Linked DNA regions of Homo sapiens. The protein of the gene in region 3 purifies or fractionates together with the protein of the main gene of each other region. This does not show direct contact. Each region holds a gene or a part of one and is shown on either strand. Other genes may lie near its edges.

What was found.
Region 1: the proteins of CPEB1 (region 3) and SYMPK purify together in Homo sapiens (affinity purification with mass spectrometry; 4 studies listed by BioGRID and IntAct, with this or other methods). This does not show direct contact.
Region 2: the proteins of CPEB1 (region 3) and GAN purify together in Homo sapiens (affinity purification with mass spectrometry; 2 studies listed by BioGRID and IntAct, with this or other methods). This does not show direct contact.
Region 4: the proteins of CPEB1 (region 3) and GBP5 purify together in Homo sapiens (affinity purification with mass spectrometry; 2 studies listed by BioGRID and IntAct, with this or other methods). This does not show direct contact.

Annotation. Positions count from the first base shown.
Region 1 is NC_000019.10:45,853,142-45,860,162, forward strand, and holds part of SYMPK (symplekin), read right to left. Parts: intron 1,367-7,021; 5' UTR 1,355-1,366; coding exon 1,250-1,354; intron 1,100-1,249; coding exon 1,034-1,099; intron 1-1,033. UniProt on the Homo sapiens protein: Scaffold protein that functions as a component of a multimolecular complex involved in histone mRNA 3'-end processing. Specific component of the tight junction (TJ) plaque, but might not be an exclusively junctional component. May have a house-keeping rule.
Region 2 is NC_000016.10:81,309,970-81,317,965, reverse strand, and holds the start of GAN (gigaxonin), read right to left. Parts: upstream 3,005-7,996; 5' UTR 2,853-3,004; coding exon 2,686-2,852; intron 1-2,685. UniProt on the Homo sapiens protein: Probable cytoskeletal component that directly or indirectly plays an important role in neurofilament architecture.
Region 3 is NC_000015.10:82,546,361-82,553,381, forward strand, and holds part of CPEB1 (cytoplasmic polyadenylation element-binding protein 1), read right to left. Parts: intron 6,257-7,021; coding exon 6,120-6,256; intron 3,299-6,119; coding exon 3,100-3,298; intron 878-3,099; coding exon 783-877; intron 162-782; coding exon 81-161; intron 1-80.
Region 4 is NC_000001.11:89,269,848-89,277,551, forward strand, and holds the start of GBP5 (guanylate-binding protein 5), read right to left. Parts: upstream 3,014-7,704; 5' UTR 2,605-3,013; intron 1,016-2,604; 5' UTR 908-1,015; intron 1-907.

The DNA.
Region 1 (7,021 bases), on a different chromosome or scaffold from region 3:
GGTGCATCCACTCCACCTCGGAGGTGGGGCTACTCCACAAGGCTACAGGCTGATGAAGGAGCCGAACGGGTTCTCACACAGGAATGCTAACCCTGCCAGTCTCTGAACTCCAACTGCCTCCTGCTCTGAACCATGCCCAGCCCAAGTGTCCCATGTCGTCTTCTGCCTTTGCACACACTTCTGTGCCCTCAGCTTGACATGCTCTCCCTCTCTTGGCTGGGCACGGTGGCTCGTGCCTGTAATCCCAGCAGTTTGCGGGGGCCAAGGAGGGTGGACCACTTGAGCTCACGAGTTTGAGACCAGCCTGGTCAACATGGTGAAACGCGTCTCTACTAAAAATACAAAAATTAGCCAGGCATGGTGGCAGGTGCCTGTAATCTCAGCTACTCAAGAGGCTGAGGCAGGAGTTGCAGTGAGAGCCAGGATCGTGCCATGGCACTCCAGCCTGGGCAACAGAGCAAGACTCTGCCTCAAAAAAAAAAAAAAAAGAGATGCTCTGCCTCTCTCATTTGGTACACTTCTCTCCTTTTATCCTCCATGGCTTGGTTCAAAAGTCCTCCCTGACTCCCCATCCCTAGGCTGGGTCAGGAGCTCCCTCTGGGCTCCCAGAGCCCCCCTGGGCTCCCTTCTCCATCCCAGCCCTGCCCACACTGGGTCATCATTGCCTGGTGACAGGAATGTCTGCCCCACTGGACTGGACACTGGCAGAGAAGAAATGCAATGATGAAGAGTGTAGGATTTGGAGCTGGAATCCAGGATTCAATTACTAGTTCAGCCAGCTCCCAGCAGAGTGACCCTGGGCTAATAATTTAAGCCCCGGGGTCTGCTTCTTTCTGTATAAAACAGGGATGAAACTACCCTGCCTTACAGAGCTTTCATGAGAACTAGAAGAGCAGAGGCCTGCACTGAGCACTGTGGCCGGCACACACTGAGTGTGTAAATGTGGACACTGGTGTTACTGCAAGTGTCTTTCTCAGGTTCCCAGCCTCCTCCCTTTCACCTGCTCAGCCCAGGATGCCCCCCGGGCCCTCACCTGTTTGAGCACTGTGATCTTTGAGTCATTGGTGATCAGCGCCGCCTGGTTCAGAAGATCCACCACCTGGAAGGAGGGGGAGTGGCAGGGGATAGTGCCAGCCCAGTCCAGCCCAGTGCAGCCCCCTCGGCACTCCCAGGGCTCTGCCACCTAAACAGGGATTGCCAAAGCCAGGGGCTATGCTTCCTCACTCCAAGCCCTACCCGCCACGCTCACCCTCTCTGAGGTGGTCATGCCATCGATGCCCGGCCCCTCCTCTTGAGTGAAAAACTGTGATGCCACGCTCCGACGGGTGACGCTGTCTCCACTGCCGCTCGCCATGGCTGCTGTCAGCTTGTCCCCAGGAAAGAAGAGGATGGATCAAGCTCAGGGAACCAGCGGATGGGCTGGGCTGGATTGTCACCCGAACACCTACAAAGGGCCCAAGCCTCCTTCCCAGGCTGTTCCTCCCCAGTCAGGCCTTCTCAAGTCCCTCTCCCCTCCAGGGTCTGTCTCTGGCTTATGGATATGTGCACGGGGCCTGTAACTTGGGGGAGACTGACATCTCCCAAGGCAGAGCCAGAAGTCTCAGCCTCAAGTGGGCCAACCACAAACAGCTGCTGAACGATGGGCCACATGAACGTGCAACAGCCACCTTGCAGGTCTCCGTGTGTCCCCTCTCTCCATCTGGGATATGCTTTGGACTGGGCACCACAGCAAACTTTCTTTTTTTTTTTTTTTTGAGATGAAGTCTTGCTCTGTCACCCAGGTTGGAGTGTGGTGGTGCGATCTCAGCTCACTGCAACCTCTGCCTCCCAGGTTCAAGTGATTCTCCTGCCTCAGCCTCCCAAGTAACTGGGATTACGGGCACATGCCACCATGCCCAGCTAATTTTTGTATTTTCAGTAGAGACAGGGTTTCACCATGTTGGCCAGGCTGGTGTCAAACTCCTGACCTCAGGTGTTCCACCTGCCTCGGCCTCCCAAAGTGCAGGGATTACAGGCGTGAACCACAGTGCCTGGCCCAGAGTAAACTTTTAAAAACACAGCTCTGAGGAATATCAGGCACAGAGTCCGGCACATAGTAGGCACTCAATACATCACAAAAGGCCTGCTTCAATAATTATGTTTCAGCCACTCTCTGGAATATCATGAAGCTGTTTTTAAAAGGGAGGAAGGGGGCTTTCAGGCATCCATCACAGTCACACAGGCAAAATTATGGAATGATTAACGTAGCAGTATATGTCAATTACACAACTATTCATAATAGCAAAAGACTAGAAGCAACTCAAGTGTTCTCAAATAGGGAGACTGGCTGAAAAAAAGTTCATACATAATCAAAGGCCATGGGGCTTCAACACCTGTGAAAGTAAGTGAAAAACATATAAATATAAATAAAGGAAAAAGACTATGGAACTGTAACAAGAAAGGAAGAAAAAAACAAAAAAATGAGAACAATCTCTAGACACTGATAGAGAGTGCATACATTAAGTGAAAACAAGCAAAGCTGAAGACAGTGTTGACTGTATGTTTCTGTTTTACAAAAAAAAAAGAAAAATGAGGCCAGGTGCAGTGGCTCATGCCTGTACTCCCAACACTTTGGGAGGCTGAGGCAGGCAGATCGCTTGAGCCTAGGAGTCGGAGAGCAGCCTGGGCAACATGGTGTAACCCTATCTCTACAGAAAATATAAAAATTAGCTGGGCATGGTGGCGTGCCTGGTAGTCCCAGCTACTCAGGGAGGTGAAGGCAGAGGCTGTAGTGAGCCAAGATCGGGCCACTGCCCTCCAGCCTGGGCAGCAGAGTGAGAACTTGACTCAAAAAAAAGAAAGGGGAAAAAATATATATGTTAAAAAAGGAAAAAAATCTGAAAGGATAAACCAAAAACCAGCAGAGGAAACAGGGTAAAAAAAATTGGTGAAGCCGGGCGCGGTGGCTCACGCCTGTAATCCCAACACTTTGGGAGGCCGAAACGGGTGGATCGTCTGAGGTTAGGAGTTTGAGACCAGCCTGGCCAACATGGTGAAACCCCATCTCTAGTAAAAATACAACAGTTAGCTGAGCCTATAATCCCAGCTACTCAGGAGGCTGAGGCAGAAGAATCGCTTGAACCCAGGAGGCGGAGGTTGCAGTGAGCCGAGATCATGCCACTGCACTCCAGTCTGGGACATAAAGACAGACTCCATCTCAAAAAAAAAAGGTGAATCTCAGTATATTATCCTGAAAAGAGGTCCCTGACAGCCTGTTGCATCAGAGGACAATACATGCAGTTCAAGCCATTTTTGTCAAGTATGTGTTTATGTATACGCAGAATGACCTGAGGCAAGACATTTAACTTCTCTGGCTCTCAGTTTCCTCTTCTAGGAAACAGGGATAGTAACAGGGCTTACCTCCCAAGACTATTTTGAGGATTAAATGAGTTAGTATATACAGTAAACATTGGCTAAGTATACTATTATTTTTATGTACATGGGAAAAGATCTGAAGGCTACTGCATAAACTGCTAACAACAATTATGATAATTAATAATAATTTGGCCAGCTCACGCCTGTAATCCCAGGATTTTGGGAGGCTAAGGTGGGAGGATCAATTGAGCTCAGGAGGTGGAGGATGCAGTGAGCTGTGATCCCTACCACTGCATTCCAGCCTGCGGACAGAGCAACACCCTGTCTCAGAAACAAACAGGCCAGGTGCAGTGGCTCACATCTGTAATCCCAGCACCTTGGGAGGCTGAGGTAGGCAGAACACCTGAGGTCAGGAGTTCGAGACCAGACTGGCCAACATGGAGAAACACTGTTCCCTACTAAAAACATACAAATTAGACAGGCATGGTGGCGCATACCTATAATCCCACCTACTTGGGAGGCTGAGGTGGGAGAATCACTTGAACCTGGGAGGCAGAGGCTGCAGTGAGCTGAGATCACGCCACTGCACTCCAGCCTGGACGAGAATGAGACTGTCTTAAAAACAAAACAAGGCTGGGTGCGGTGGCTCACACGTGTAATCCCAGCACTTTGGGAGGCCAAGGCGGACGGATCACGGAGGTCAGGAGATCGAGACCATCCTGGCTAACAAGGTGAAACCCCGTCTCTTCTAAAAATACAAAAAAATATGCCGGGCATGGTGGCGGGCGCCTGTATTCCCAGCTACTCGGGAGGCTGAGGCAGGAGAATGGCATGAACCCGGGAAGCGGAACTTGCAGTGAGCTGAGATCACAACACTGTACTCGAGCCTGGGCGACAGAGTGAGACTCTGTCTCAAAAAAAAAAAAAAAAAAAAAAAAACACACACTAAACAAACAAACATGCCAAAAAAACAATAATCTGAGGACGGTGAAAATGATACTTTTTTCTTTTTTTGAGATGGAGTCTTGCACTGTCGCCCAGGCTGGAGTGCAGTGGCGTGATCGTGGCTCACTGCAAGCTCCGCCTCCTGGGTTCACACCATTCTCCTGCCTCAGCCTCCCCAGTAGCTGGGACTACAGGCGCCTGCCACCACGCCCGGCTAATTTTTTGTATTTTTAGTAGAGACGGGGTTTCACCATGTTAGCCAGGATGGTCTCGATCTCCTGACCTCGTGATCCGCCCGCCTTGGCCTCCCAAAGTGCTGGGATTACAGGCGTGAGCCACCGCAACCAGCCGAAAATACTTTTTTTTTTTTTTTTTTAGATGGAATTTCACTCTTGTTTCCCAGGCTGGAGTGTAATGGCACAATCTCAGCTCACCGCAACCTCCACCCTCCCAGGTTCAAGCAATTCTCCTGCCTCATCTCCCAAGTAGCTGGGATTACAGGTATGTGCCACCACATCCAGCTAATTTTTGTATTTTTAGTAGAGACGAAGTTTTACCATGTTGGTCAGGCTGGTCTCGAACTCCTGACCTCAGGTGATCTGCCCACCTTGGCCTCCCAAATTGCTGGGATTACAGGTGTGAGCCACAGCGCCCAGCCGAAAATGACACGTTTTTTAAAAGGAACTACCCAATAGCTATTCACAGTAGTATCACATGATAGGGGTCTCCTCAATGAATGACGAGCCACAGCCTCCTCCCTAGTTTCCCTGCTGCCTGTCACCCCCTATCTTGCTCAGGGTCAGGGCCAATGTCCCCATCAAGGCCTACAAGATTTTATGGCATCTGGCCTGTTCTTCCTCTGACTGCCTCTCCCCCTGGGCTCTTTGCTCCACCCACTCTGGCCTCCTCGCTGTCCTGTGAACATGCCCAACATGCCCCTTCCTCAAAGACTTTGTGCCTCTCTTCCGTCTGCCTGGAATATTCCTCCTCCTAGATATCAGCACAACTCCTTCCCTCTTCATTTCCTTCAGGTCTCCACTCACATGTCTCTGCAGTAAGGTCTTCCCTGACGACTATGTTTCTTTTTTTTTTGAGACGGAGTTTCCCTCTTATTGCCCAGGCTGGAGTGCAATGGCGTGATCTCAGCTCACAGCAACCTCTGCCTCCCAAGTTCAAGCGATTCTCCTGCCTCAGCCTCCCTAGTAGCTGGGATTACAGGCATGTGCCACCACGCCTGGCTAATTTTGTATTTTTAGTAGAGACGGGGTTTCTCCATGTTGGTCAGGCTGATCTCGAACTCCCGACCTCAGGTGATTCGCCCGCCTTGGCCTCCCAAAGTGCTGGGATTACAGGCATGAGCCACCGCGCCCGGCCGACGACCATATTTCAAATTTTAACTTCCTCTCGATCCCCATCTGTGTTGCTTTTTCTCCATAGCATTTATCATCATCACACACTACATATTTATAAGTTCCACGAGGACAGTGATTTATTTATTTGAAATCATTTTTTGGTAGAAGCAGAGTTTCGCCATGTTGCCCAGGCTGGTCTTGAACTCCTGCACTCAAGCAATCCACCCTCCTTGGCCTCCCAAAGTGCTTGGGATCACAAGTCTCAGCCATCGCCCCCGGCCTAGAACAGGGATTTTGTTCCTTCACTTTTTATATTCCCAGCACGGAAGAGTGCTTGGCACCTAGCAGGAGCTCAATAAACATCTGCTGAATGAGTGAACACTACTGCCAAACGGCCTCCCCAATCACTGGGTTCAGTATTCCTGCCCTTTCACTCTTGAATCCTAATAGCTATACTTGTTCTACTTTTTCCCCCTTTCTCACTACTGCACTTGACAAGTCTTTAAAAAAAAAAAAAAAAAAGGGCATGGTGTGGTGGCTCACTCCTGTAATCCCAGCACTTTGGGAGGCCAAAGTGGACAGATCACTTGAGGCCAGGAGTTCAAGACCAGCCTGGCCAACATGGCAAAACCCAGTCTCTGCTAAAAATACAAAAAAATTACTTGGGCATGGAGATGGATGCCTGTAATCCCAGCTACTTGGGAGGCTGAGGCATGAGAATTACCTGAGCCTGGGAGGCAGACGTTGCAGCGAGCCGAGATTGCGCCACTGCACTCCAGCCTGGATGACAGAGCAAGACTCTGTCTCAAAAATAAAACAAAACAAAAACAAAGAAAGGAAAGAAAACAAAAATAGGACGGGTATAGTGGCTCACAATTGTAAACCCAGCATTTTGGTAGGTCTAGGTGGGAGGATGGCTTGAGGCCAGGAGTTCAGGACTAGCCTAGGCCTAAAAACTAAAAAAGAAGGCCAGGTGCAGGGGTTCATGCCTATAATCCCAACATTTTGGGAGGCTGAAGCAGGAAGAGTACTTGAGGCCAGGAGTTTGAAACCAGCCTGGGCAACACAGCGACACACCATCTCTAGACATATGCACAATTAGCTGGGCATCGATATCATGCCACTGCTCTCCAGCCTGGGAGACACGGTAAGACTCCATCTAAAAAAAAAAAAAAAAAAAAAAAAAAATTAGCCAGGCATGGTGCCATGAACCTTTAGTCCCAGCTACTCTGGAGGCTAAGGTGGGAGGATTGTTTGAGCCTGGTTGTAGTGAAGTATGATTGGGCCACCGTAGTCCAACCTGGGCAACAGAGCATGAACCTGATGAACCTGTTTCCAAAAAAAAAAAAGAAAAAATAATCAGTTAATAT
Region 2 (7,996 bases), on a different chromosome or scaffold from region 3:
ATCACTTCAATAGCCAAATAAACTTAAAGCAATTCATCTGTCACTGATGAAACACATATTGACTGATTCATGTTTATCCACAAAACATAAAAAAAAAAAATCTGCCTTCTCTTTAAAGATGATTGAAAATGGAAACCAAAATGACACAGTATGTAAAAGTGCTTGATAAACATTTTAATTCTAAGATATTGTAAGCCAGCTAACAGTAAAGTTTACACAAAGAGAACGGTGAAATACAAGTAATGCTCTAACGTGGTAGGGCAAGAGTAGGAAGGCGGTTAGCCGTAATTAATTTGGAGTCTAATCCTAGTTCAACCATTAAGTACTAATAACCTCATAACACAAGTCACTAATGTCCACTGAGCCCCTATTTTCTTATTTAGAAAGTGAAAGAACCGGACTACAGATATTTCCTAATTCAATGGGTACTACCTTTGAAGACATGGGAACAGACCTATGAGGTGTCAACACTATTACGTATTTCTTCACAGGTGTGATTAAATGAGAAGACTCATTTTTATCCCTCATTCATCAGATTAGTGAGCTGAAGCCTTGTCATCTACCAGCAACTCACAGCTAATATGAGTAAAAGCTGGAAGCACAAAGCGGGTCTTCAAACTCTGAATCCAGTGCGTTTCTCAATTAGGTATAACTGAGCGTCTGTGTACTATGAAAATGTGATGGTGCCAATTTTCTAATGTACACATTTGCTGTGGTAGAAAGAAAGGCAGTCATTCATTCAATACATTAACTGATAGGCACAGTTCTTTCTGGGTGCAAAGAGTAAAGCAGTGAATAAAAGAAAACACCGCCGGGTGCCACGGCTCACGCCTGTAATCCCAGCACTTTGGGAGGCCGAGGTGGGCGGATCACGAGGTGAGGAGTTCGAGACCAGCCTGGCCAACATGGTAAAACCCCGACTCTACTAAAAATACAAAAATTATCCGGGCGTGGTGGCGGGCGTTTGTAATCCCAGCTACTCGGGAGGCTGAGGCAGGAGAATCGCTTGAAACTGGAAGGCGGAGGTTGCAGTGGGCCGAGATCACGCCACTGCACTCTAGCCTGGGCTAAAGAGTGAAACTCAGTCTCGAAAAACAAAACAAAACACCACGACCTCATTGAGGTCACACTGTGGTTGGGAAAGACCACCAAAGTAAATGTGTAAAATATGGGGTACGTCAAAGTGGTAAGTGCTATGGAGAAAAACGAACAAGGATAACAAGCAAGGATTCGGCAATTTGCAATTTACTTCTTTTAAGCCAAACGGATGCCATTTAAAGAACTATAACAATAATGCATCTAAAGTAGTTTTCTTCAGCATTTTCCCAAACAGGGAAGACTTTGGTCTGCTGACTCCAATTTGGGATGGGTTGCTCAAACCTCGGAACTGCCAGCTAGAAGCTGTCTGTCACATTAGCAATCCAAATTCTGTACTAACGATGCTACCCCAGACCCTACTGCCGCCCCGCCCCCCCACCCCTCCACACTCCCCACCGCCAAAGAGCGCAAATGGATTCACAAAACAAATCCAAGAGAAACCAGAAGTTACAAGGGCACTTGAATTTCTTCTAAGTTTAGCACAGATATCTCCCCAATGCAAAGGTTAAAAGTGTAGCGTGCGTGGTGGTTTTGCTGGGACAAAGCGCTAAGAATACACATCATTTTGCTTTTTCTGACCTGTCAATTGTAGTGATATTCTCTACCACTAGCTTATATTTAACCAGCTTACTGGTCAGTTTCTCCAGTTTTTAGCATTCCCCCCTTTCCTTTTATTAAAACAGCAACCTAGTTTGCAAGAAGGTTGCTAAAAGAAAAGATAGTCTCCTGCAAGATCTGATACACTTGTATAAGCACTGTCTTATCAACCTTTTAATTAACCTGGTTAGTTGAGTTGGCAAATCAGGTTAAGCTTTGCTTTACTAAAGTATTAAAATGCCCTTTGTCGCAAGGCTCTCACGGTCCTCGGGTTGTAACAGCATCCTGAGAATTCGCTACAGTTTACTTCAACGTGTAACTCCTCTTTTAAACAGTTACCAGAATGGAGCGGAAAAGACACGTTTGGCAAGGAGAATTTCGCCCGGAGGTTCGGACTACCAACCCAAGGAGAACATCGAGAGGGTTTTCTCTGCCTGCACCCAGCGAGGCGCTGTCTGTCTGGCCTCCCAGCGGGCAGGGCGCTCCCCGCCTGGTTGGCGGCGCCGGCCCAGCCCCCGCGCGTGGATTCAGAGGCGAGCGACTGGCGAACTTCAGCGGGGACCGCGGGCCCGGCCTGGGCGAGGGGGTGACTCTTCCCCGGCGCGGCCTCGCCCAGCCCGCAGGTGCGGGTCCCGGCCGGCCCAGGACGGCGTCTGGGGGCCTCAGGGTCTCCGAGGTCGGGCGCTCGCCGCGGCGGTGGGAACCGGGAGGGACAAGGCGGGGGATCGCGGCCCGGGTCCGGGGACAACTCCAAGGGGCGCGGGGGTCCAGTGGGGAGCGCGGGCCTGGAAGCCACAGAGGCCGCCTGGGGGACGCGGTCAGCGGGGCCGGGTTCCGGCGCTTGCCGGGAGGGACGCCGCGCCAACGGTGACGCGGGGACCCCGGCGCCGGGGACAGGGGACAGGGTCTGGGGGCCACGCCCGGCCCGGCCGCCCCGCCTCCGGCTCCGGGCAGCACCGCCGCGCCCGCCCGCCGTAGCCCCCTCCCCACCTGATGTACGGGCTGGCCGCCGCCAGGATGTTCTTCTGCACCGGGATCTCCTCCCCGTCGAGGACCAGGTGCGCGTCGCAGAAGCGAGACTCCTCGCGGAAAGAGCTGAGCGCTCGCAGCAGACGCGCGGCGTGCTGAGGGTCAGACACGGCACTGCCCTCAGCCATCGCGGCGCCCGCTCCTCTGCCGACGGGTCCGGCTCCCGACACCGTCCGGCCGGACCCCTCGAGCGGCCCGAGTCCTGCGCGCGCGCCCGCCCGGCCCGGCTCTCCGCGCTCTGAGCAGAAGCTGGAGCCCCCGGGACGTGCCTGTGCTATCCGCGGCGCGCTGGGCCGGCGCCTTTAAGAAGCCGCGTCATGAAGTCATTTCTCCGCGACGCCCCCGCACCGTCGCTCCCCGCCTTCTCGCCTCCGCTGCTGGAGATGGCCAATCAGAAGCCTCCTTCCTCCGCCCGCCTGACCAGCTGCGGCTGGGTGCAGCGGAAGGTGTCTACGGATGAGATAGGTCGCTCCCGCGATGGAGGGATGTGCGGGCGGGCTAGGATTCCGTGGTTAAGCCTGTGGCCTCTGGAGCCGCGAGTTTGAATCCTGGTTGCAGCTGTTCCACTTACTAGCTCTGTGGCCATGGGTAAGGTGCCCATCCTCAGTTTCTCCGTCTGCAAAATGAAAGCGAATTCTTAGTGTTGTTGTGGACTCATGAGATGATGCATGGAAGCAAGGGCGAAGTCGCTGTAGCTTTCTTTATTTATGAGAGAAAAGGAGCTGCCCAGGTGAGAGGACAAAAACCCGAGAAAACAGACCCGGAAAAGATGGTTTTGGTTGCGGGCTAGGAAGGAGATGTAGCAGATGAAGCTGGAGAAGTCCGAAGGAGGCCTTAAATTTTGCAGGGCCTCCTTGGTGTGGGAAGGAGTTTGGTTTCTGCAGTGGTGAAGAACCATGGAAGTACCGTATTTAGCAGGGGATTTTGTGCAGGTCACTCAGCTCCTGCGTGGAGAATAAGGCGGGGATGGATGTGCTAAAGGCAGATCGATGCTTAGGTATTGCAGGACTAGAGAGAAGGGAATGGGCACCTGGATGAAAGGGTGATGCGGGGGCGGGGGTAGACAATAGTGGATTGTTTTAAAAGAAATTGTGAGGGAGAGGGAGTTAAGGATAAATATTCTGTTTGAGTAACTGCATGCATGTTTGCACCTTTCAGGGAGAGCTAGGAAATGCTGAAGGGGTGGGCAGTAGAGAGGCAGATGTTTAGATTCAGACAGGCTCCCAACCCAGTGAAGATCAAAGCTGTGATAGAAAGGATCGCTGGGTCAGCTCAGCTGGCAGGCCAAGCCCCACGGTATCTGAAGTTTCCCTGGAGGTTGCTCAGGGCACATGGGAGTGTGGAATGTAGCAACCATTTTGTGCAAACGTTAGGGACTCCATAAGCCTCTAAAAAATTAGCAATTGTATGAGGACTCCGGACCAGAAGAATGTGGCTAGCATTCCAGGCAAGACAGGATGGAATTTTCACTGTCCTTCAACCAACTGAAAGGCTCCAATAAAGTCTTGGGTATTTACCCTGAACCAGCCAAGGCTTTGGAGTCACTGGCAGGAATCCGAGTATCTAACTGTTTTCAGGGCAGAATAGATGGGGAGGGTACGGCTGTGGAAGACACATGCATTTCCACTTTCTTCTGTAAATGCAGCTCAGTGTTCCCGGATGCAATGATAAAGATGTCTAGGATTTGCTTCAAAACAAAACAAAGGGATGGGGAAGCAGATGGGAGTGTAGATGAGTCAAAAGTGGCCGCAAGTTACTAATTGTTAAAGCCACGTAATGGGGATGTGGAGATTCGTTGTACTGTCTCTATATTGTTGTGGATGTTTAATGGGGATGTGGAGATTCATTGTACTGTTTCTATATTTTTGTGGATGTTGAAAAATATTTTCTTCTTTCTTTTTTTTTTTTGAGATGGAGTCTCCCTCTATTGCCCAGGCTGGAGTGCAGTTGTGCAATCTCTGTTCACTGCAACCTCCGCCTCCCGGGTTCAAGTGGTTCTCCTGCCTCAGCCTCCCAAGTAGCTGGGACTACAGGCATGTGCCACCATGCCTGGCTAACTTTTGCATCTTTAGTAGAGATGGGGTTTTACCATGTTGGCCAGGCTGGTATCGAACTCCTGACCTTGTGATCCGCCCACCTTGGCTTCCCAAAGTACTGGAATTACAGGCATAAGCCACCACACCCGGCCGAAAAATATATTTAAAAAGGTAAGAAACACACAAGACAAGCAGCTTGGACTTATCTTCTCCATGATACCTACCCAGTATCCCTGTGAGCAGCTGACATTCCTTTCTCCAAGCAGTTGCTGTATTTTGAACATTGCTCGAGCAAGAAACTTTTTATAATGGGTTTATTTATCCATGTCACCTGCTATACTATGTTTATTGTAGCTCAGCATGATTTCCAGGTACCAAGCACAGTACTTGGTGCGTAATAGTGCTAACTGAATGTTGGATGGATGGAGGGATTAAAAAAAAGAAAAACACCTGAATATCAGACACTTAATAAATGTTTCTTGGGAGGCCGAGATGGGCGGATCACGAGGTCAGAAGTTCGAGACCAGCCTGGCCAACATGGTAAAACGCCGTCTCTACTAAAAATACAAAAATTAGCTAGGTGTGGTGGCAGGCACCTGTAATCCCCACTGCTCAGGAGGCTGAGGCAGGAGAATCACTTGAGCCCGGGAGGCAGAGGTTGCAGTGAGCCGAGATCACGCCATTGCACTCCAGCCTGGGTGACAGAGCAAGACTCTGTCTCAAAAAAAATAAAAAATAAAATAAATAAATGTTTTCTGAACTGTATTCTCTATCTGTTCTTAGTTAATTTGTGTTTGCCATTTTTAAAGTCAAAAACCAGGGAGAGTTCTCTACACAATGTAAATATTTGATAAGTACTTATTAATTGCTTATTGTGCTAGTCTATTCTTTAAATATCAGAGGTTCCAAAACAAAGAGCTCCAATAGTAGGATCACAGTCAGGTAACCAATTATCCGAGTAGGAAGGTTGCCTTAGTTGAAGTAACTGGAGGTGAATGGGGATTTGTCAGGCAGGCTCTTCCAGATAAAGGTGAACCTTCCCTGTTGTTTTGATAGAAGGAGGAAATGGAATGACCATCAAGAGAAAGGTAGTTGCTGGCTTGAGAGGATCATCTGTGCAACAGGCAGCTAAGCAGAAGAAGACTTTATATATATTTTTAATACCACCCACACTGTTGCTAGTATTCCCCACCACTCCATTGGCCTGGTGAACTCTTATTCATCCTTCAAAACCCAGCTTAACCATGGCCTTCAGGAAATCTTGAGCTGGCTTCCCAGGACAGAGTGGGTCAGTCCTCTGCATGCTCCTGCTGCTGTGCTGTACTCACCATACTGTACTGTAATTTACTGGTTTGTAAGTCATTTCCACTGCTGGGTTGTGAGCTCCTCCAAGGCAGGGGCTTTGCCTTATCTGCCTATGTTCCCAGGACTTACACAGTGCCTGATGTGTAGTAGGTACCCCATGAATGTTTTACATAATTAGCAGGAGCGTATCAGGTAAATTAGCAAAGCAAACTGTGGGATGTGGGATGTCAGACAATAGGAGTAGGTGGGCTTATGGGAGCTGAAGAGCACATGCTCCTCAGCTCTGATTGATTGCTCTGTGCGATAGGGGCCCAGTGGTGGTGGATCTAACAACTTTTTAAGAGATTCTGACAATTCAGACTTTACATGTTGAATATTCCGGATTTTCAACATTAGCAACTAATTCCATTTGGAGGAAAAAATGTAGCATGGGTCTACAGACAAGATCTGGCTGTAATTCATGTTCAGAGGTAATCAGGAAACGATTAGTTTACTGAAAATGTAGTCGACAATCAAATGGCTGCTAGGTTGCCAATAAAATGTGTTGAGTGGAATTCACATGCCCCAGAAAGCTCCTCCTGGTGCTGTGGGCAAGGAAGAGGGCCCAAGTGTGGGAAGAAGGATTCAGGAGGCAGAGCCAACTCTCCCAGTGCTGCCGGAGCCACTCTTGCTTGAGCTGAAGTACTGTGGACTGTTTTGCAGCCTTCTTGATATTGCTCAAACTGAGCCACCCTTGATATTGTGCCTATCAGAATGATGGATTAAATGTTATTGTTTCCTTATATTCCATAGGCATCAGATATCAACTGTCATTGTGAAACATATTACAATGTAAGAGATTTGATATTGTCCTAACAGCTTTAGTCTCTGGTGGCTTTACTGAGCTCTTCTGGTTTAGAGGTGAAACAACCCAGAGAAAGGATTTATTTATGTATTCGTTTTTGGTCTGAAGACCAAAAAGGATGTTTGCAAGATATTAACAGTAATCATTCATTCAACAACTGTTTTTAAAGCACCTGCTGTACGATACCTGCTACAGATACAGTGATGGTGAAAGTATAGTTGTCTCAGTGTTATTATAGAAGCTTTTACTCTGTATTTTCCTCGATTTCTATTTTCTGTACTGATCATGCATAATTTTTTACAATCATTAAAAAAACAAGAAAGCAATGTCTTTTTGCAAAAAGGGAAAAAAAAGCTTTCTTTTGCTTTGAAAAATGTGCCCTCAAGAGAGGAATCCACTTGGGGGGTTGGGCTTTTATTTCCTAAAAACTACTTAGAGAGTCCAGTAAGAGAAATAATGCAAAGAAAATATTAACAGTTTGAAAATTCTTTAGCAAATATCAAGTCCAACGGATTTATCTTATTGAAGAGAAAACCAAAGTACAGATGAGCAAATGACTCAGTCAAGGTTATAGGTGTGACCCAGTCAGGGCAGAACAGACTAAGGTCTAGATCTTCTGCTTTCCAGCCCTGTAAGCTTTTCCATTACACCAAGTCGACTTGTCATAAACATTCATTTGTTTGAGACAGTCTCTTCTGATTCATTTTAAGGTAGTCTTCAGATATTTTATTGGGTAAATCTTTCATTTGTCCAAATCTATATATAGCTGTTTTCTTTCCAAAAAAAAGTCTAGGCTCTTTCAAATTGCTGAGTCAGAGAACATCTCAGTATTTATAACGCTTCAGAGTTGGTTCTATATATTTACACAGTACTCAGAGAAGTGTCTCAGAAACCGGTGAACTAATTAAATTGTAATGAAACTCCATGAAGGTCGTAACTGTTCCTATCCAAATTCATCATGTATTCTACCCCAGCACCCAGTACAGTGCCTGACACACAGTAGGTGCCCAATAAATATTTGCTGAAGGAATAAATTCTAATAGAATTGAGATTTTTCTGTTTACAAGGGATTACTTCACATGTTATT
Region 3 (7,021 bases):
CTGGGATTACAGGTGTGAACCACCGCGCCCAGCCAACAATTTTTAATAGAGGGCAGGGACTTCATAGACATCGGACCCACCTGATCTCGACAGAAGAAAGGACCAGGCTGAGAACTGCAGATATGACACAGAGAATCTTCTAGGTAGGGGTCAATCTGAACCTGCACAAAGGCAAAATAAGATGATGAAGTGGCTCTTCTTACCAGGAGGCTCGATAGGCGATAGAAGAAGGGCACATTATTGGCCACACACAGGAATGCGGGATATTGGAATGCAGGATATTTGCCTGTTTTAAAGGAGGCTTGGAGAGAATTATGGGCCTGAAGTACAGAAAGGAGTTCTAGAGGACAGACTCATACACCATGCACAGTCAGGCTGGATGCCTCTGGGATTCAGGCAACCACACACCTTAATGCCTGGTCTTCTAGGCAAACTGTACCTCAGCCCTCTATCAATTAGCAGTATAGGCAAGTGTTCGGAGGATTCCCAAAAGGTTGGAAAATAGGAAGTCAGGCTACTGAGCAATGCCAAAGAAATACCACAGTGAGGGAAGGCACCCTACACACTGAAGAGGCTCAACAGTCCCAGTTCCCTTCCTCCTGGGCGTACAAAGACCAAGCCCACTCCCAAACCCTAACCTCAATGTTAATTCTCAGGAATTTGGCTCACTTCCCTAAACACACCCAGCACAAACAGCTTCAGGTCTCAGGCCTGCCCTGGGTAGTAACTGCCCAAACCCCTCTCATATACCCCAGAGTAAGGGCATAAACCAGCCAACTCACCTTCTTTGTGAACTTGGTGGTTTTGATCTCCACAAAAGCAGCGCTGACTGCTTTCAGGTAACTCCGTTGGTTATTGAAAGTCACACGACCAGAACCTAGGACAACAGACACAAGCTTCCCTTCTAACCAAATTCTCCCAAATGCTACTTTTTTTTTTTTTTTTTTTTTTTTTGAGATGGAGTCTCGCTCTTTCGCCCAGGCTGGTGTGCAGTGGCGCAATCTCTGCTCACTGCAAGCTCTGCCTCCCGGTTTCACGCCATTCTCCTGCCTCAGCCTCCCGAGTAGCTGGGACTACAGGCATCTGCCACCACACCCAGCTAATTTTTTGTATTTTTAGTAGAGATCGGGTTTCACCATTAGCCAGCATGGTCTTGATCTCCTGACCTTGTGACCCGCCCGCCTCAGCCTCCCAAAGTGCTGGGATTACAGGCGTGAGCCACCGAGCCTGCCCTAATGCTACTCTTTTAAAATGCAGGAAACCCTTTACGATACTAGTGCTGTCCGACAGAAATATAATGTGAGCTACTATGTAACTTTATTTATTTTTTGAGACAGGGTCTCCCTCTGTCACTCAGGCTGGAGTGTAATGGCGTGATCTCAGCTCACTGCAACCTCTGCATCCCAGGCTCAAACAATCTCCTGCCTCAGCCTCCCAAGTAGCTGGGACTACAAGCATGAGCCACCATGCCTGGCTAATTTTTGTATTTTTTTGTAGAGACAGGGTTTCACCATATTGTCCAGGCTGGTCTTGAACTCCTGGACTCAAACGATCTGCCCCACCTCGGCCTCCCAAAGTGCCAGGATTATAGGTATAAGCCATCATGGTCAGCCCTTATGTAACTTTAAATTTTCTAGTAGTCACACTGAAATTTTAAAACAGTGGTGACATTAATTTTAATAATATATTTTATTGGCCGGGCACGGTGGCTCACACCTGTAAACCCAGTGCTTTGGGAGGCCAAGGTGGGCGGATCATGAGGTCAAGAGATGGAGACCATCCTGGCTAACATGGTGAAACCCCGTCTCTACTAAAAATACAAAAATTAGCTGAGCGTGGTGGCGCACACCTGTAGTCCCAGCTACTCAGGAGGCTGAGGCAGGAGAATCACTTGAACCCAGGAGGCAGAGGTTGCAGTGAGCTGAGATAGCACCACTGCACTCCAGCACGGCAACAGAGTGAGACTCCATCTCAAAAAAAAAATTTTATTTAACCCTATATGTTAATAATATTATTTCCAAATGTGACAACAGCTGTGTTTCCAAAACTCAATGGGGCCACATTTAGCTGGTAGCTACCATATTCGTACCATATTTGACAGTGGAGATCATGTTAGCGTGAACCATTCAGGAATGGGGGAAGAATTTGCAGATCAAGATGGGAAGGAAAGATAAGGGACTCCTTCAGTGCAGGTAGAGCATAGGTTAAGGTTAAAGGATTCAGAGTGGAAGCCAAGATGCAGATAGAACACTTGTCTGAAGGGTAAGCCCAGCAGTTGAACTGAACCTCTCCTAGCCCTTAGGCACTCTGGAGACCTATTAAGAGAGCTGGAAGAAGCCCCATCCTGCCAAGTTCCTCCTCCGCTCCTGGGGCTTCTGAAGTCCCTGTTCTCAATCTGCTGCACAGTATTGGTGAGTACATGGTGCTCCTTCCTGACCAGATTCAGTGTGGGTGTGAAGACTAAGCATTTGGGGAGGTGGGTTAGCCACATGTTAATCACAGAGGTCAGGCTCTGCTCCACCTCCATACCTCATCATTGACATTTTGCCAGGACTGGCGAATTGACCTCCTTTCTCAGAGGAGCTGATCAAAACCTAGTGGTTAGGCCCACAGACTTCTGAGTTAGGAAAGCACAGGCCACACTCTGTTGCCTGACTCACTCAGAAAGTCCTCCTCCAGCCTGACCTGGTCTCTGACCTTAGACAATGCCAGAGCTTTTCAAGAACTTTTAATAAAAAACTCCAGGCAAGTTCAGAGAATTGCAGCCTTTTCATGAAATAGTACCTGTTGTCTGTTCCAAACTGGTTTCGCTGTGAACTCTGAGCTTCCAACAAAGTTCCTACCTCACTCTCACTTCTTATCACCTCCTGTAGTCTCCAATAGCTTTTTCTCCCACTGCGTGGGAGATGGTGGGTAGAGGGCTAGATACAGAAGGGCCAGTACTCGTGACTTGTCTAGAAAAAGATATTATGGTGCTGGTATATGCTGATCTGCAGACCTGGGTCAGGCCTCTCTCCTCACTCCCATGGGGAAGTATCACAATCTTGGTCTACTCCCAGGGGCCAACCAAGCTTTCGCACACAGAAGTGGGACACTTACCAATGGGATACTTGTGCTTATCTGTGTCAATCCCGGCATACACCACTCCACCAAATAGGTCGTTCAAGATGGCTGCCAGGGCCTCAGCATTTAGCATTCCATGCAGAGCACCGACAAACACCGTCCTGCTGGGGTCAAGCCTCTGAGATGGGCTCCGGACAAAGTTACTGTCGGCTAATACCCAGGGGATCACCTGCACCTGAAAACCACCCAAAGGTGTATCAGCCCTGGCAGAGAGCCACAGAGAGAGAGGTGCTTGCACGGCAAGGTACGTGCTCTGGAGATACTGAAGCTAAGCTAACGCCCTTACAGGGGTGAAAAGGTGCTGTTGCCCAATCTCAGGCACACAGGCGTCCAATAAACCACCCTGACTCCACCCCAACTGGAGTTGAATTTTACTGAGTCCATGTGTCCAGAATGGTAGAAGTGGACACAGTACTCACTCATGCTGGAGAGTAAGCAAAAAAGTACCACATGGCCAAACCCAGGAGCCCAGCATTCTATTTCAACCTCCAACTGTGTAGTTCCAACAAAGGGCTGTGGACACTGATGAAAAGGGCATAATCTGAAGTCCTCAAGAAAGGAAGGACTCACAGAGAAATTAAAGGCTAGGATCCTGAAGGACAGAGGGGTGGGAGTGCTTACGATATTTGTATGAGATGGTTACTGGCCCAACCTAGCCTTCAGAGGGTTTGTGCCAGAGCAGTGGAAATGACTGGCGAGAGGTTGGGTAGAAAGTCACATACAAGATCCCTGGAGTCTTAAAGGGCTGGGGCTGACCATGTCCTTTGCCTCTGAATCTCCTGAACCTGGAACAAAACCTTGTAGAGCAGGTGGAGGAGTCCAGAATGAAGTGAAGATCTAAAAATATGTCTTGAAGCAGGAAGAGATCTGAGGCAGAAACCAGCAAGGAGGCAAAAACAGTAGTTTCAAAGGACAGGTGATTAAGACTTGGACAAGGCTGGTGGCAACGAGCAGAGAACAGGCCAAGACCAAAGAGATTCTTCAACAGAAGAGTCTGCAGTACTCAGACAGCATAAGCAGGATGGGCAAGCAAGGAAGAATCAGGCCTGGTAGGTGCTGGGCCTACACGGTCTTGGGATGAGAGGACCTGGCAGAAGTTACAAGAGGGGAGCCAATTTCACTGGAAGATGAAAAAGCCAATTTTGCCCACAAAAGAGTTTGGGATTACAGGACATCCCGAAGAAGGATCCCACAGGAAGGTGAGGCTCAGGTAGGACATGAGGCTAGAAAGGTGAATCTGGGTCTAAAGGTGAGAGAAGCCACAAAGTGAGTCATTTATCTGAACTAGAAAAGAAGAAGGGAGTCAAAGATTGGCTATATTGGCTATGTTGGTGCTGGCGGGGAGAGGAACACAAAGGAAAAAGAAAAGTAGAGAGGAAGGAGAACTGCATCAGCCTATAGCCAGTGAATCAAAGAAAGATTAAATCCCTGTAAGGTGATGGGAGGGAATGGGAGACAGGATGGTGTCTACAGGGGCACTGAGGAGGAAGGGGAAGGGCTCTGTGATATGCATATGGCCATCTCTGGTTGTGAAAGCAGGAGGGGAGGAAAAAGGAGCATGTTAATTAAGTCCTAGAACATACTAAGGTGGGAAGACTACACAAGCTCCAGAGAATAAAGAAGCAGAGAAGGTAGGGAAGCTGTGGGTCACTGTGGGCAGCCAGAGGATGAGCCTGCCCTCTCTCTAACACAGAACAAGAGCCAGCTTTGTTACATGGATTTATTTTAAATCTAATGTGACCATCCCAATAAAATAGGCATTTCTCCTCTTACCCTATAGATTTTTTTAGAGAAGCTTTAAGGTTTACAGTAAATCTGAGCAGAAAGTACAGGGATTCTCCAAATACTCTCTGCCCCCACACTTGCGTGACTTCCCCACTATCAGGATCCCGCATGAGAGTGGAACATTTTTTTATACTGACCCATCATCCCCACCGAAAGTCCATGGTTTGCATCAGAGTTCACTCCTGGTGTTTCTTTTACCTTCTATGGGTTTGGACCAAAGTATAATGACATGTATCCACCATATACAGAATAGTTTCACTGCCCTAAAAATCCTCTGTGCTATGTCTCTTCATCCCTTCCTGCTAAACCCCTGGCAACCACTGATCTTTTTTACTAAAATAGGCATTTTAGTTTCCCATCTTATAGAAGAGAAGAGGAAACAAAGTTTCAGAGATATTAAATATCTAGTCCAATGTCACAAAAGTTGTGTGCTCTCAAATCCGATTTTACCACCGCACTGATTCCTGAGCTCAAAACTTGCTTTGACAAGTGGTTCTCAAACACTACCCACTAGAACCACCTGGGGATCTTTATTCAGTTGGAGATTCCTAAATTCCACCCAGAGTGATTCAGTAAGTCTGGGATAAGGCCCAAGAATGTGCAATGAGATCCCCAGGTGAGATAAACTCGTTAGAGACCCATGCTGCCAAGGATACATAAGGCTGATATTAGAAAAAGCGTAGGAAGAGAGAATCTTATGGGGAAAACCCACAAAACTAAATAAAGCCCTGAATAAGAATGAAGAAGTGACCCACAGGTGGGTGTGGGCTAAAGAGGAATTCACCCCCACAGACTGGGAGGTCACAAGGCACAGGAAGGGCAGGACCAGGGAAAAACAGCTGTAGGTTTATCAGTTAAGTCCAAGTAGAGAAGTTTGCTGTTCTCAATTTCATTTCTAAGACAAGAGGTTTGAAACCAAAGTGTTGGCTACAAGAAAGAAGAGCAGAATAAAGACGGGCAGACAGTTTGATTACCATGGGCAGGCATGCGCATGTGTGCATGCACACACCCCATTAAGTCCCAAAGGTTGCTTTTTTTTTTTTTTAATGTAATTGAGAGGATACTGCTATTTTATTGTGGGACAAGAAGAGCCTTCTTGCCTCAGCAGGAATACTCCTTGCCTGCAGCCTGCCTATCCACCTACCACAAGAAAATCCAGTGCCTCAATATTCCAAGACCCTCGATCCAGAAAGGACATCACGCTAACTCACCTCCTTGCAGCGCATCCTTCGGCTGGACATCTTGAAATAATATTCACTCAGGCCATCTGGGCTCAGCGGGTCATGAGAGCAAGCCTGAAGCAAGGATCGGACAGACTTCTCTAGTTCGAAGACCAGATACACATACCCTATTCCCAATGAGAGGAAAAATCGCATTAATATCCCTTAGGTGGCCACTCCTCAGCCTTGGCTTTGCAGCAGGGCGTTTCTTCCAAGAAAGAAGGTCTTGTGTATAAGATACATTTTTGTTTTACTCCTGAAAAGTCGTGTTGAGTGGAAGCATTTGCTATGCAGATGCCCTGGGTTGTGGGCCTCCCTCCCACCCTGGTGAAGGAAAGGACTGGCAAGCTGAGACAGAGGATCCCACCATTACCACAGCTCTCTATGCAAGAACACAGAGCATGTTCAGGTCAGCAGAGCCAGGCTTTCCTGGTGGCAGGAAAGATGGCAGGTATTGCTTTAAACACCTACTTAAACCATTAGTTCAGTTCAATGAAGATGGGGCAGGGTGAAAATAGCACCTGCTCCTTTCTACAGGGAAGGGATCTCATTTCAGACCAGTGAGGAATCAGATGCTTGGTCCTCATTCCTGCCAACTCCAAAGGGACTTCAGAATTAGGTCAGGCAACAACGTAACTGGGCAGGACAGGCAGGCAAGGGAAAGCTTTTCAAACGCCTTATTTTGAGAGGAAAGGTGCTGCTTGGGTTCAGGTTTAGAGAGAAGTGTACAAGGAAGGGGTTTCAGAGGCAACTCCCACTGCTGTGTAAGTCTGGACAGATGGAACATTAGCTCAGAAGAAACAGAGGGACATGTTAGGTTGAAGAGAAAGTGCTGACAGATGGCAGGTCTGTGCCCTGGAGTGCCCACCATGTTACCAACATGCAGCTGTGAC
Region 4 (7,704 bases), on a different chromosome or scaffold from region 3:
AACCTACTAGTTTGAATCTAACTCTTATTCCATTGGTTTTTGGCTTAGTTATGTTTTTTAGTTTTTACCTCCCTGGGTTCCTATATTAATTCTTTATGATGTTCTTTATTAATATATTACACTGTTCCTTTTACTTTGTGTCAACTTCATTTTTTTCAGTTAGATCTATGTCCAGTCAAACTGCATTACATTAAATACTACCAAGTCATTATGCAGCATTATCTAACAAATCATAGCTGTTTGCTTCTTAGTGATATACTTGAAATTTTTTACATAGTTACTAATGTGCTTTATTAAACCAAAACTTCAAAGCATGATTATTTTATGATTGACTGAATGAGTAAAACAACTTCCTTTAATAATACTTAACCTATTTTTTTCTAACTTCTGAGCATCAATCCCTATAACCTAAAGAGTCTCTGGTTAAAAAAAATGTTTGAGCTATATGAGAAAAAGCAAATGCCATAAAAATATGCTTTTCTACTTTGCCTTATCATAAAGGATAGTTTTCTTCCATTTTAAAGGTGGTTATTTACTAAGGATGCTAAAACTTCACTATCCGCTTGACGAGTTCTTTCACTAAAATCTTACAATGAAAAGGTTTGGATTCTCCATCTCTTTACTAGCAAATTTCAAAAACTGTCATTTTACAATTATGAAGACCCATTCTCCCTGCTTCCTCATAGCTAATGCCCTGGAAATCATTATGTTGACATAAATTAAAACAGAAACTGCTTGGCAGCAGAAAATAGGATATCCATTTGCAAATGGTGTAGCACTAGGACATGGGAGTCAGGAAATGCCTAGTGCAAGCCTGACCCAGAAAGAGGCAATTTTGCAACAAATTTAGAGACTCAAATGGCAGGTCTCTTCTCATTCTAATCTATTTTCAATGTAGTATTAGTACCTTATATATGTAGAATTCTGGTTGCCTGATTTGTATGCAGCGGAGGCCAGAATAATTTTTCCACTAGAAAGATATGGGCACCTTGAAGTGATGATCTACAACAATTAGCTAGAAAAACAAAAGATACATAAGCCAAATCTATAAGCAGATATTGAGAGCTTACAAGATCTTATGATTTGGGATGATGTCACTAAGGAAGAGGGAATGAATGTGTCTGAGTGTTCAGACTCTCTTATGAATGACAATAGCATTGTATATCTACATTAATAATAGTATTTGACATGTTGTCCCCAATGTCATCTGGATAGCATCTTTAATGCTTTTAGTAAAGCCAAATTTCTAAAACATTATTGCAGATTTAATGTGTTCAAGCCACAAACATAACTGTTGCTCTGTTATTCATAACTTAGTGTTCTGGGATGCATTCTCCCTAACTGCTTGAGCCCTATAACCTTTGCAAATAAAAACAATGCAAGAATGGTTCAAAATACACACACAAAATGCACATTTTGCCCTTGCCTTAAATTAGACTTGATTTCCAACCCCAGCCCTACAACTGGCTATCTGTATCTCTCTGGCATTTCACTCAATTCTTTCAGCTTGTTTTCTAAAAAAGCAAAAGTAAATAAACAACTATTTATTAACATCAGTATAACTGCTGGCTTATGAAAGAGAGTGAGCGAGCTGCAGGAGATTTTAAAAAGTGCAAAGAAGGAAAATGCCCAAAAAAAAATACTAAGAGAAAATGCTCAGAAGTGGTAGTGGAAGGATTTCTGAAAGAAAACATCTGTTTTCAGCCATATGATTCTAGTTTGGGTTTTGCGCCTGCATTTGTATATGTAGTTGTTATTGCTTGCTTTTGCTTATTTTGCATAGTTTCTGGTTTGAATTTCAAGGAAAAGGAAAAGGCTCTTATTAAGGATATAAATGGAAATCAAACTAGTACAAAATGCTTGAAGTATGTGTCATGGTAAGAAATTCAAAGGAGAGAATTTCAACGAGTGAACAGTTGCCAGACAGTATTGAGGGATCCAGTTGGGCAACTGTTAAATTAGGTGATTCATAATAGTAAAGGCAATAGAGTAGTAGAAGCAGAACCCAACACAAAAGGGGTTAGTTAAGTGAGTAGATGCCAAGAAACCAACATGAATTAAGTCAGGGCTATTGCTAAAGGAAGAAATCTACTTTCAAACAAAGTACAAGACTATGACTAAAAATACATCACTGTTTTCATGAAACTTCTCTCTGGGCAACATTTTTTTCTTGTCCTTAATGTTTGCAAGCTACTTACATTGCATCATATTCATTGTTCTTTCTCATGAAAATAATAGCTATCATAGTTTTTGAAACTTTCATGCTGAAGTTCGAGTCAGTTTAATCAGATTTTATGAAGGACGAAGGTAACTTAAGTGGAAATTATGATCCTGAATAAGTCATAAAATTGCAAAGGAAGAAAAATAATTTGAAGGCATTTCAAACTCTTAGTTTAGTCACCACACACATTGATGTCTAATTCAGCAAGAGGCAGACACAGCTGGTACTTGATGAATTCTGCTGCCTGTCTGATAAGAATACAATTTATTCTTTACTGAGGTCTGATATACCACATCAGGATAAGCTGCATCCTATCCTTTGTAGAATGTTTCTAAAACCAAATGAATCTTGCAAATCTCTTCCACCTCTTGCCCCAGTCTTACCGTGTCCGGAATTGGTGGGTTCTTGGTCTCACTGACTTCAAGAATGAAGCCGCGGACCCTAGCGTTGAGTGTCACGGTTCTTAAAGGTGGCGTGTCAGGAGTTTGCTCCTTCTGATGTTCGGATGTGTTTGGAGTTTCTTCCTTCTGGTGGGTTCGTGGTCTGGCTGGCTCAGGAGTGAAGCTGCAGACCTTCGCGGTGAGTGTTACAGCTCTTAAGGCTGCGCGTCTGGAGTTGTTTGTTCCTCCTGGTGGGTTCGTGGTCTCGCTGGCTTCAGGAGTGAAGCTGCAGACATTCCCAGTGAGTGTTACAGCTCATAAAGGCAGTGTGGACCCAAAGAGTGAGCAGCAGCAAGATTTATTGCAAAGAGTGAAAGAACAAAGGTTCCACAGCCTGGAGGGTGACCTCAGTGGGTTGCCACTGCTGGCTACTTCTCTTATCTGGCCCCACCCACATCCTGCTGATGGGTCCATTTTACAGAGAGCCGATTGGTCCATTTTACAGAGAGCTGATTGGTCTGTTTTGACAGGGTGCTGATTGGTGTGTTTACAATCCCTGAGCTGGACACAAAAGTTCTTCATGTCCCCACTAGATTAGCTAGATACAGAGTGTGGATTGGCCTATTTACAAACCTTGAGCTAGATACAGAGTGCTGATTGGTGCATTTACAAACCTTGAGGTAGATACAGAGTGCTGATTGGTGCATTTACAATCCCTTAGCTAGACATAAAGATTCTCCAAGTCCCCACCAGATTAAATAGATACAGAGTGCTGATTGGTGTATTTACAATCCCTTAGCTAGACATAAAGATTCTCCAAGTTCCCACTAGACTCAAGAGCCCAGCTGGCTTCACCCAGTGGATCTTGCACCGGGCGGCAGGTGGAGCTGCCTGCCAGTCCTGCTCCATGCACTGGCACTCCTCGGTCCTTGGGCCATGGATGGGACAGGGTGCTGTGGAGCAGGGGTCAGCACAGGTTGGGGAGGCTCAGGCAGCACAGGAACCCATGGCGGGGTGAGGTGGGGAGCGGGAGAGGGGAGGAGGCTCAGGCATGGCAGGCTGCAGGTCCCCAGCCCTGCCCCACCGGGAGGCAGCTAAGGCCCTGCAAGAAGTGGAGCACAGCAGCTGCTGGCCCAGGTGCTAAGCCCCTCACTGCCTGGGGCCGCTCCGAGTGCAGGTCCCTCAGAGCCCAAGCCCACCCAGAACTCGCGCTGGCCCTCAAGCACCGGGCGCAGCCCCAGTTCCCACCCCTGCCTCTCCCTCCACACCTCCCAGCAAGCTGAGGGAGCCAGCTCCGGCCTCGGCCAGCCCAGGAAGGGGCTCCCACAGTGCAGCGGAGGGCTGAAGGGCTCCTCAAGTGCCGCCAGAGTGGGTGCCCAGGCAGAGGAGGCACCGAGAGCGAGGGAGGGCTGCAAGGGCTGCCAGCACGCCGTCACCTCTCATTACCTTGATTATAAAATCGGGAGAAGAGGTATTTTAGAGCTAGTAAGAAAACTGCTTCCATGAGGGACTGGGCACGGTGGCTCACGCCTGTAATCCCAGCATGTTGGGTGGCCGAGGCGGGTGGATGACGAGGTCAGGAGATCTAGACCATCCTGGCTAACACGATGAAACCCCGTCTCTACTAAAAATATACAAAAAATTACCTGGGCATGGTGGCGGGCGCCTGTGGTCCCAGCTACTCGGGAGGCTGAGGCAGGAGAATGGCTTGAACCTGGGAGGCGGAGCTTGCAGTGAGCCGAGACTGCACCACTGCACTTCAGCCTGGGTGACAGAGCGAGACTCTGTCTCAAAAAAAAAAAAAAAAAGAAAAGAAAAGAAAAAAGAAAGCTGCTTCGATGAGAACTTGCTGAGTTCGAACTCTCGTCTTTTACTTTCACTGTGGTGATTTCTCATTTATTTTCTTCACTCAGTCCTGGGGTTTTTGTTCTTCCCACCCCATTTTCCCTGCTCGAAAAAGGAGACAATTTGAATACAAAATATGGAATAACAGAAAGGGGGATTTTTGAAAGTTCTCTGTAGGAAATAGAAACCAAAAAGGAAATTCAGTGACTAAGCCAGATGACAAAGGGAATTGCCCAACTGTTACCTAGTGTAGATAGGCTGGATGTATTTGACCTGACTTCTTTGAAACTGCATGTTTCCTAGAAACTGCAGAGAATCCTTTCAGTGCCAGCCATACTCCTCCCTGCTTCCATTGTTGTTGTTACTAGAAGAGAAATTTGAGATCTTTCACAGTTGTTCAAAGTATGTGGTATTTCAAACCTAGCTTGAAATACGTTGACATTCATCTCCAGTTTGGGAGTAGGCCAGGGGAAGAGCTCATATGATTTTTGAGGTCTATTGTTGTGAAATGTTAGAGCTGCTCACACAGGACTAAGTTTATTACTTTCGCAGTAGGTTCAGTAGCTGAGAACTTTAACTCACAGGCAAGGACAAAGTTTTTGGCACTTAGTACATGATGAATGATAACAAGGATATTATTTATTAGACATTTGTAATGCCCTGGACAGGTTTCACTACTTTGTGTGGATTATTCTATTTTAATTCTCCCAACAAATGCTTTCTCCCAATTTTACAAAAGCTAAGACACAGGGAGATTTAGTAACTTGCCCAAAATCACAGAGCTACTAATAAATGGATCTTAAGACTGAAACCCAAGCACTTTATTGTAGTCCTTTTGTGTTTGTTGAGTGAATCATCATAATAATCATCATTATTATTGTCCCTTTTTAATAAATGGATTCTAAGATCTGGACACTAAATATCTCATATTATCCTGGTTTCAATCCTACAAGACAATTTTTTTTCTATCTTTATTTTACAATGAACAGAGTGGCTGTTAGGCAGTATTTTTGGAGCTTTAGTTCCTAGACAAGGATTTGTGAGCAAGGGATATTTATTTTGAAGGTGCTCATAAGAAACGGGGTAGGACAGTGGGAAAGTGAAAACTGGAACGGAATGAAGCCAGTGACTGGGAACATATCTAGCAGGTTTTGTTGTGGGAACCAGGAGTTAGATCTCCTCAGGTAACTCTAGGAAACAATGTAAAATCTGCCTCCAATTTCCCTCTTGGGTGGGTTAGAAACCTGGGGTACTTTTCTTCCAACTTCCTTTCATTTCTGGATAAAGACTGGTCCTGAAAGCATAACCCCCTTGCACTCCTGACCTGGCCCACGTGTGGGCTGAGAAAAAATGCTTAGATGAAGGATCTCTGATGTTTGCAGTGAGATGCCATTGGAATGTGCAAGGTTGAGTGATAAAGGGAGATGGCCTTCACAGATGTTGTGGGTATCCCATCCATATTGCCCCTATCTTATGCAAAGATCAACCTTTCCTTAATGGCTTCTTCAATTTTGTGGCTGGTCGTTAGTTTAAATATATATATATACACACACACACACACACACACAATAGGAAAGTCTAAGCTATAGTCCTCTTTGCTGCAACTGATTTTGTGATCCTAACTGATATTCAAGATCTTCTCCTCTATTACCCATTCTAGGTTTTGCTCATACTTGATCAGGAGTTCTCCTTGTCTAGGTTGCCTTCTCAGTGGAGAGAAACATTTCTTCATTTCTGAGAAACCAGAAGACCTATTTCTGTGCTTTAATAAGGCTGTAGTTACTTCCAGTGCATCTTAACAGGCCATGCAAGCACCAAGAGTATCCCAGGGAATCCTTTGAGTGCCAGCCATACTCCTCCCTGCTTCCATTATGTACTATTTCCTCACAGAAACCATAATCATTTAAGCTTGCCAGTAGATCAATCCTTTTAATTGCCTGCTGGCTTGTCTACAAACATGAAATTCATAAAATGACCAGGTGGCAGCTATAGTTTCAGATTTAGTAGAACTTTACTATGACCCCTGGTAGAAAAACTGCTTAACTTCACCCTGAGAACTGGCCCTCTAGTCCAGCAGACTAGACAATGGATCACAAATTCACAAATAATTCAACGGAGAATACTCCTACTTTAACGCTTTGGTTCCCAGGCTCATATATTCCAGCTAGCATATAATATCCTTTAGTTATCCAATTATATACTGCATATTGAATGACAGTCCCCAACCCCACAATGGTCTCTACTGGCCATTCCAGTTTTGTTAGGCTGGCAGCTTTTAGATGATGTATAAGGACTAGTGGATTCCATGGTTACATTCGCATTGTTGTGCCTCTTTACTGTAAAGTAAAACTTTCAAAACTTTCTCTAAGCTGATGTTTAGTAGGATTTTAGGACATTTAAACAGACACTGCAAGTCCTCGAATAGGTGCTGGCTGAACCACTCTCAACAGGGGAATATCCATACCCAGAATTTATGTCAATTTCAGTAAAAAAAAAAAAAAATCACAGACTCCTCCAAGGTGCAAAAGGACTGATTTGATCACCTTGACATCTAGTGGTCTGGTTGGTCTTCTTGAAGGGTGGTATTATACTGAAGGCTCAGTGTCAATTTTTGTTGTCTTTGGGCCAATATTTAACGTGTAGTGAGATTGGCCTTGGTGAGAGGAAGCCCAGGTTGATGGGTCCATGCAAAGATTTCATCCCTGCTACCGTATCTGTTCTGTGCAAACACTAGGTAGCTGAGGATAAAGCCTGGCTCAAATCTACTGGATAAGTCATTTTAGCCACCTGGTTTGTTCAGTGTCTCTCTAAAACCTATATACTCTGGTTGACATTGACTTAAGACATAAAGATCCACACACTTTATGCACTTATTCCTATAGATTTACCTACAGACCTGTTTATTTCTGATCCTACAATTGTGCCAAGGCCAACTACATAAACCATTCTCCACTGCTCAAGATTCTGTATATAGCCTTACTTCAGGCCACTTCTTCCTTTACACAAAATTGCTTACCTGTTAACTGTTTAAAATCTGTCCACAGAGAACATTTCACAACAATATTTTTGGGGGCCATCCCTAGCTGCAGCAGCAATGTATTTCAATTTGGTTTCTATAAATAATAGACATTGGAGACTACAGAAGATGGGTAGGTAGAAGTGGGGAGAGGGTTGAAAAGTTACCTATTAGGTACGATGTTCACTATATGGGTGATGGATACAGTAAAAGCCAAGATTCCACTGCTATACAATACAGGC